2 separate regions of the Homo sapiens genome follow, and region 2 is linked to region 1. Evidence: fine-mapped expression QTL. Tissue or cell type: whole blood. Region 1 holds a variant in brackets; the other region holds the start of a gene. All regions are shown on one strand. Distances are between the middles of the regions.

Evidence for each region. PIP is the estimated chance that this variant, and not a neighbour inherited with it, causes the effect.
Region 2: AKR1B1 starts here. The variant in region 1 is fine-mapped to the expression of AKR1B1 in whole blood (TOPMed, PIP above 0.99). The same link has a PIP of 0.9 or more in blood mononuclear cells.

Annotation. Positions count from the first base shown.
Region 1 is chr7:134,494,609-134,499,229 of GRCh38, forward strand. No RefSeq gene overlaps it. Among named protein-coding and RNA genes, the nearest start is that of AKR1B10, 31 kb to the right of the region's middle. The variant G/A (reference allele first, on the strand shown) is at 2,352.
Region 2 is chr7:134,457,103-134,461,723 of GRCh38, forward strand. AKR1B1 (aldo-keto reductase family 1 member B) reads right to left here and starts at 1,998. Exons shown (of 10, transcript NM_001628.4): 1 at 1,895-1,998. The coding sequence starts at 1,960. RefSeq lists a silencer at 1,608-1,797.

The DNA.
Region 1 (4,621 bases):
AGCAACATACAAAATACCTGCTAAATTTACTGACTTTTGGAAGTCAACATCTTCTAGAAATCCTGGATGGTCCTGGACATCATTGGAAATGAGTATTTTTGATAAATTATGACAAATAAAATGGGAACAATTAATATTCACATGTACTCACAGACCAGATAACTACAATTTGCTATTATCTAAGTCACCTTTAGTACTTGGACCATTTATATCCACATACGAAACAACAGAGATTATTAGCACATTCTCTACAGGAAATGAACCAAGAAATATGATTATATTAAACAAATTTACCAGCAAAACCAAATATGTACAAAATCAAGTTATTTTTCCAATGTGTCCATTGGAAATTCAGGATGATATAAACAACAATACATAATTTAAATCAATTGGTGGGAAACACTAGGAACCAAAATAAATATGAAGAAAGTCATAAAAATAAACCCAGGTATGTCAAATTACTTTTTCTCCACGATCTAGCCATCTAATGGATCATGGAATAAAGTTACATGGTCAGTCCAACATCCTATTTACCAAACCATAACAAGACTAGACTCCCACTTACCTATATTTGTAGCTAAAGACACTTCTTTTGCAAAATGCTCTGTTAAACTCTGTAACTCTGGACTATGCATAATTGACAGAGGATCCTGGAGTGACACACATTGCTTATGAACACACCATTGGAAACCACAGTGGACCAAAGGCATAACAAACTCTCCACCTAAATTATTAAAATCAAATTTATTGAAACACATTCTCATTAACTTATTAAAATTAATTTACAAACCAACACCTAGGAGAGTAAAATATTTTTCAAAATAGAACAATTTAAAGTCACATATGTCCAACCACAATGCATACAATTTGAGGGACAAGGATATGACAAAAAGGGACAAGGATATGACAAAAAGCTCATTTTACCAAATTTATCTCCACTAGATAAATATCACCTAAGAAAAGCGCTATGAATATTTGTAGCAATTGGAATTATTTCAATTATTGATTGAAATTATTATGTCTATTATTTCCACAGAGATAAAAGACATAATCTGCAAGTAACTGCCTTAGAAAATCTACAAATAACTGCCCTAGTCATTTCAGGAATACAAGAAGCAGAAATTCAGGAAGTTAAAACAGACCTATCTGATCTTTAACATAAACTTAACTTCTACATAGAAGGGCAATACCAAGCACTAGGTATGAAAAGAACATGAGAGATATATAGAAACTGACAAAGTAGGAAATTGTTGGCAACAAATGATGAAAAGCAAAATGAGTTTAGGAATTAAATTGTTTTGGAAAATGATTAGATGGCTTCCACTTTTGCTAAACCAATATTGTAATTGTTATCTAATTACAGGCTGTGGACTATGCTATAAACTGGGTTTGTTTTGAGGTTAATCTAAGTAATCTAAAAATAACAGTACTAAAAAGTAGAGAAAAGGATTTGTTTAGTTATCTGGCCTTTGTAAAGGTCTAAACACTAAACAACTAGACAGATCTAAACTAAATTTGAACTTACACAATTGTGAAACAATGTCAACCACGTAAGTTCAAATTTAGTTAAAATAATTTAGTTTATGTTGCAGTGTTCTTCTTTTTCAATTGTAATTAACTTTGTATTTATTCCAACATGTCAGTGACATAATTATGATAAAGCTTATGTAGAACCAAGAAAAAAGTAAAAATTACTTGGAGGTTGAAAATCTCCCCTTTGCTTCTAGATTTATGAATCAAGAAATTATTTTTGGGCAACCTCAAATGTAAACTTCCTCATAGATATATCAACTTTGACATGACCCATTATAATCTTTTCAAGATAGTTTATTTGCAGATAAATAATATGATGCTGTGAAGAGTATCAGACTTTTAGCTGGGTGTGGTGGCTCACACCTGTAATCCCAGCACTCTGAGAGTGTTGGAAGCCAGGAGTTTGAGACCAGCCTACCAATAGAGCAAGACTCTATCTCTATTGAAAAAACAAACAAAAAAGAGTACTGAACTTCTAGTTGAAGATTAATGAATCTTGACTATGGCAAAAAAAAAAAAGAGAAAGTAGAATGATACTTTTAGATTCTGATGAATTCACATGTCTATGCTTTGTACCCAAGTAGAGTCCTCTTAACCATGTCCTGAAAGGGGAGAGTGTGGCTTATTAATGCAGTATTATTAGGTTGATAAATTGGGTTGATGCTATCAGACTACAAAGGGTTGAAGTGTATCTGGGATCTAGAGATGCTCTCAGAGGGATTCAGGAGACTAAAACCATTTTTGTAATGATACTAAAAGCGTTTTTTTTTTATTCTCATTCTCTCACAAGTGTATAGTGGAGTTTCCAGAGGCCACAT[G/A]GTGTGTGATATTCCAATAGAGTGAATAAAGAAGGTATGAAAATCAGCTGTCTTCTATTAAGTCATACATTAATGAGTTTTATAAAAACGCAAAGTAGTGCCATTCTTCTCACTAAATTTTTGTTTTAGAAAATATAGTTGTATTTTCATAAAATGTTATTTGTATAACATATAATGTTTATTATTTTAAAAAATTATTAATACATAAATATTTTTTAAATTTCTGAGTTTTAGTTTTCAGTATGGTAAATATTGATATATAACCCATATTAAACAAAAGTTCCTTGGGGTCTTCAGTAATTTTTTTTTTGAGGTGGAGTCTCGCTCTGTCTCCCAGGCTGGAGTGAAGTGGTGCAATCTTGGCTCACTGCAACCTCTGCCTCCCAGGTTCAAGCGATTCTCCTGCCTCAGCCTCCCCCGTAGCTGGGACTACAGGCATGTGCCACCAAGCCCAAGTAATTTTTGTATTTTTAGTAGAGACGTGTTTCACCATGTTAGCCAGGATGGTCTTGATCTCTTAACCTTGTGATCCACCCGCCTTGGCCTCCCAAAGTGCTGAGATTACAGGCATGAGCCACCGCACCTGGCCTCAATAATTTTTAAGAGTATAAAGCAGTCATGAGACCCAGAAGTCTGACCACTGCCGTAAAGTTCCACTGATATTCCTCATTCAATGAGGAATCATCCACAGCATCTCTAATAGTTGGTCACTCAACCTAGGAACAAATAATTCCATTCTGTTTTTTTCTACTTTCAGATCTACAGTAATAATTAACCTTGTATTGTTTGATGCCAACTTTTGTGTTTTTACATGTAAATAGATGAATATGATCATTTATATACAATACGTGAATATAATAGGACTCTTCAGGTAGTAGTTAATCTCAATATTCTTGAACCAATATTATTAGTACTACTTTAAACGTTTTTTTAAAACTTTTATTTTAGCTTTGGGGGTACATGTAAAGGTTTGTTACATAGGTAAACACATGCCATGGGGGTTTGTTGTACATATTATTTCATCACCCAGGTTTAAGCTCAGTACCCAATAGTTATCTTTTCTGCTCCTCTCCCTCCTCCTACCCTCCCTGCTCAAGTAGATCCCATTGTCTGTTGTTTCCTTCTTTGTGTTCATAAGTTCTTATCACTTAGCTCTTGATATGGTTTGGCTGTGTCCCCACCCAAATCTCACGTTGAATTCCCATGTGCTGTGGGAGGGGCCCAGTGGGAGGTAATTGAATCCTGGAGTCAGGTCTTTCCTGTGCTATTTTCATGATAGTAAATAAGTCTCATGAAAGCTGATGGTTTTAAAAAGGGGAGTCCCTACACAAGCTCTTTTCTCATCTGCTGCCATGTAAGACGTGCCTTTCACCTTCTGCCATGATTGTGAAGCCTCCCCAGCCATATGGAACTGTAAGTCCATTAAAACTCTTTCTTTTGTAAATTGAGCAGTCTTGGATATGTCTTCATCAGCAGTGTGAAAATTGACTAATACAGCTCCCAGATACTTTCATTCTAAGTGAGTGCATGGATTTGGGAGGCAGCTTGTCAATTTGTCAGGCAATCTTAATCATCATGTCTTTATTCCATGCCACATAGAACTCTTGGAACCATCCTCTTTCTGGTCTTAGTGCTGTCATAAAAGTTTCATGACAGTCCTTCAAATTCTGAAGACAATATCATATCTCACCCAGTTGTTTATTCTGCAAACAAATCATTTCCTGTTGTTTTCACTGTTCTCCATCTGATATGATTTTTAATCTTCTCATTTGTCTGGATTTTCATGGTCCTGGCACACATAGCAAGAAGATAATTTCTTTGGGAAGGATCTTACTGGAGCCAAGGGCAGTGAGAATATCAGCTTTCTCAGTTTGTCATTCTATTTTTCATGCTATTGTTTCTTACTTAATTACTTGTCCCAAAAACCTTATTTCTTTTTATAGAGTTTCTCCAAGGATTAAGTCTCTGCCATTCTGTTTGTACAGTATTCGTCAAACCCCAACTGTCATTCAGACCTTGGGTTTATCCCCAAATTTCAGCCTATCACATTTTAAGTCTTCCCTCAAATCAAAGGTGGTAAAACTTTCTTCTATCTTCTCCCGTTCTTGGAATAAAGAATGTGAATATGACATTTTAAAGCAAGTAAGCCAGTAAAAATTTAATGTTATATTAAAAAAAGAAAGATGAAATAGTAATAATAATAATGGCCTACTTACTCAGTGCTTATAGAAAGGACAAAAGATAGAGTGAAGAGCAATCTCACTTCTTTT
Region 2 (4,621 bases), 38 kb before region 1:
ACTCCAGCCTGGGTGACACTGAGCCCCTGTCTCAAAAAAAAAAAAATAAACTTTTACTCCTTATTTACCCTAGAGTAGTGATTTTCAAATGATGGGTCACAAAACTAGCTTCTGGAGGTATGACAATAATTTTTGGAAAAATGGAATAGAAAAAAATATTGAAATGCAGCCTACATAGGTTAAGTACTGTTAAGTAATTTTTATTCCAGTTACATGTATATATCTGTGCGTTGCATCATGCTTAGAAAGTATTTGCTATTGCCAAGAAAGCATCCTTCTGCATCCATTCCAAGAGCATAACATGCAACAGATGGAAATTAGCTTGGTGTCATGGTTGTAATTCAATTACAACCTTAGAGACACCACTGGAGTTTTTGGAGGAAACAAATCACGTACCCTGATCATTCTGGCCAAGAAACACTCTCCCTGATGCAAATGACCTTTTTCTTACCTTATATTTACTAATTTTCAACAGCAGGTTTTAGGGTACATGTAAACTCTTCTGTCCTATTTCAAACATCTCACAGTTCACTCAGTTCTTTCTGTTGTTTTCTTCCCTTGTCTGTGTGTAAATATCCAACGCCCAGGCCCATATTCAAATTTTAAGAGAAAAACCTGGGACGTGGGCCTGCCAGATGGTTCACACCTGTAGCTTTGGGAGGCGAGGTGGGAGGAGCGCTTTGAGCCCAGGAATTGGAGATCACCCTAAGCAACAAGCGGAGACTGTCTCTGCGGGGAAGAAAAAAGATTAGCCAGGTGTGGTGGTGAGCGCCTGTAGTCCCAGCTACCCGCAGTGCTGAGGCAGGAGGATCACTTGAGCCCAGGAGTTCCAGGCTGCAATGAACCATGATTGTGCCACTGCACCCCAGCTTGGGCAACGAGACCCTGTCACAAACAAACAAGCAAACAACAAAAACAGAAACTGAGAAACCCAGGTTATGGCTGTGGAATATAATATGCAATACTTAGAAGGTTAAAAATTCTAGGTTTTGCCTCAGCTCCCATACCACCACCTTTGTTGCTCAATTTTCAGATAATCAGGCTCAGGCTATTATTTTTGGTTTTTCATATCATATTATCATTTTTCATATCCTATGATGTTTCATGTCCTATTGTCATTCTCATCCGGCTAGGCACTTCTCGGGGACGCTGTGTGGTGTTGAGGTTTTACAGGGAAAATGCTAACCTTGGCGCCTCCTGAATTATCAACTAGCTACGGGGTGCCCAGATTTTTCTCCCGAGTTCCAGACCCAGGGCACCCCGAGGCGGCGCCTGGCCGAGGAGCTCCGCACTGCGCCTTGTTAACAGCTGGGTCCGGGCAAACTCGCGCCACCTAATTCTCTGCCCTCTACCGGCTTGAGATGCTTATTCCTCAGGGAGGGCAAGAATCGAAACGATTGAGACCAACTATTTACAAGTGAGGCAACCGGGCTACAGGTGCCTCGAGGGAAAGGAGGCTGGGTCTGCGCTCCCACACCTTGCCGACGGCTCCACGTCCCTGTCTGCGCCCGAGGTCCACCGGTCTGTGAAGCCCACTTTCCCCGCCTCCCTCTCGCGTTGTGCCGCTTGGGGCGCCCGCTAGGACCCAAAATGCGGACTGGTGGGCCGCCCATCAAGGGTTGCCCGCGGTAGGGCGGGGGCTCCCGTGAGCTGCTCCCAAACCCCACTCGCAGGATGCTGCCCTGACGCCCAGGGCCAACCCGGGGAGCCAAGGCCCCCGGTCTCTGCAAGGCCGACCCCAGCCCGCTGGGGACCCTGCAAGCCCGCGCGTGGCTCCCAGCACGCCGGGCGTCCGCGGGGCGAGCTGCTCAGGGTCACTCGGGGTCCCTCGCCAATACAGGCCGCGCGGAGAGTGTGAGGCGAGCCCCGGGCCCGCGCCCCCACGAGCACCTACCTTCCAGGTACCCAACCCCAGGATGGGCATCTTGGCGCCGTTGTTGAGCAGGAGACGGCTTGCCATGGCTGCTGCGCTCCCCAGACCCCCGCCCAGTACGGTGCGGCCTTGGCCGCGGCGCGTACCTTTAAATAGCCCGTGAGGTCGGCAGAAAGGGCGCCTGCGGTTGGCGCGCCGCTGCGCGAAGGAGCCTTCTGATTGGTTGCGCTGGGGGTGCCGCGGCGGCCTTCCCCAAGGGTCGGCGGGGATGCTTCTTCCGCCTGGTCCTAGTGGCAGCGGATTCTTTCCGCCCCCAACGCTCGCCCGCGCCCCGCGTGGCAGAAAGGAGTTCCTCAGCTGCTGTATCTGGTGGGAAAGCGAATGCTTTAGCGAAAATAACAGGCATCCCATAAATACATAGACTAGAAATAAGTTTTGGTTTCATTAAGAGCCCAGAAGAATGCCTTTGTTGTCCAACCCCAGTTTGATGCTCTTTGGGAATCTGACGAATACCTTGTCCTTAATCTATGTGAATCATACTGACTACACATATAGTTTACCGCACTTTGTTCTTAGACAAAGGTGCATGCCAGAAAAATGGCTTGCAATCCTTTTGCAAAGCACCTTCACAAAATATGGGTTTGCCCAGACTTTTTGTAGCCTTCTAGATCTCTCTTTGCACCCCACTCTAGGTGTTAGCTGTGTCTGTGCATACTAGGTGTGGTTCAGCAAGCCTTCCACCAAAAGCCAGCATCCTTTGATGTTCTTGAGGTTAGAAAGCCTTGATGGGCTTGATCCAGAACTCTCAGAAGAATTTGGAAAGTAAGGCTGTCCATTCAGAATCAGTAAGACAAATTTCATCAGTCTTTGGAAAGTGAGACTCTATCAAAGCAGTAAGTTCCAGTACAGTAACTTATCAAAACTCTCTAGAGGAAGAAAAGTGAACAGACAGAAAACCACAGAAGAAAAAGTTGACTCTAATATTGTAGCTTCCAGTATTTCAAATTAGAAGGTACAAAATAGTAAATTGATCACCCTAATTGGCAGGTAGAAACACACATTTTTCCAAGATAGCCTAAGAAAAGTCACTTGAAGATCCTTGAAGACAATTTTGGTTTCTTTCCAACAACCTCTCTTCATGATACTCTACCTCACCCCAACTGCTCTTTCTGCTCCATCACCCTCCGATCTTTCCCCTAATTATGCAAGATTGGGAACTCCATCTGCCTGGTAGTGACTCAAGCACCAGGTCTCTCTAAACTCCATGCCGGTGATTTTCCATTTGGTGCTTTCTTTAAAAGTGCTCCCTCCTGGAAAAATTTATACAGAACAGACTAGCCCAGATATTTTTCCATGTAACTTTTGTAAAAATTGTTGCTATTGGGCAAATTCATTTGTCCCCAAGTAATAGAATTTGAACTTGAGCCTAAAGCTGGGAACTTGCTTTGTGTAAAACAGCAAGTTCCTTCCTCCATGAGAGTCCTCTTGACTTGGAGGTTGCTCTGCCAATTGAACCTCCTGGGTCCAAATCCAAAGAGCTAATCTCTTGTGAAAATGATACACCTTGAGTGGCCAGGTTGGTACACACAGAAGGGTCGTCTGTTAGGGACATGGACTCAATATCAGAGGCTTTGTTGTTGGTTTGATAATAATTGAGTATACAGCTTGATTGCATGAAGTTATAACTGTGTCTAAAGCTGGAGTGATACCTGTAGTCTCAGCTTCTCAGGAGGCTGAGGTGGGATGACTGCTTGAGCCCAGGAGTTAGAGACCAGCCTGGACAACATAGCAAGACCCTGTCTGTAAAATAAATAAATAAACCCAGAATATTTTGGCTGGGCCATGCAGACATGAAAAGTTGTATCAGTGGAATTTCTATAGCAACAATAGCACTCTAGTTGGGACATGCTATTGTGATAGCCCCCTAACATCCCCCATTGCCTCTGTAATCTTTGTAAAATGTACACATACCAAAATTTTTGATCTCAAGATTTTTGATCTCCCATCTTTTGATAAGTATACATATCAAAATTTTGTTTGAAAAAGGGAAAAAAACCTTCAATGGAATCCTCCTGAGAAACACTCTAGTAATTGGAATCTTAACATGCTCTGAACCAGTAATCTCCCATCATGGGAATTTTTCCTAAGGAAATAATTTAAAAGGAAAACACACACACACACACACACACACACACACACACACACACACACACACACTAGGTATAGGGCTGGGCTGGGACCAAGGTAAGACAAATGAGGTACACAGGTACAAATTTTCATGCCAGAAGGTAGGAGCTTTTTTACATTTATGTCCTTGGCACTTGCCTTCCCTTAGTCCCAGGCCTGCACACAGATATACACATATGCGTATGTATTTTTAAAATGCTGTATACTTAAAGTAAAACTGTAAATATCCAACAATAGCAAGAGATAAGGTGTAGCCATCAAAAGTAAAGATGACAAAGACACAGAGAAAAATGTATATGAGGTAATGTTAAGGTGAAAGTAGAAAACAAAGTCATATAGCTATGGAATGATGCTAAGAAGGAAAATACAACCTATAACATTTAGGAAATTTAGGAAGAAGACAGAAGGAAATGGGGAATACTCTTTGTCAGATTATTTCCTTAATGAACACATTTTGAATTAAAAGACAACTTCTTATGAACTGTCCAATTCCCATAGGATAAAACCTAAACTCTTGAGCCTGGCATTCAAGGCCCTGCGAGATCTGGTACAAGTTTGAAT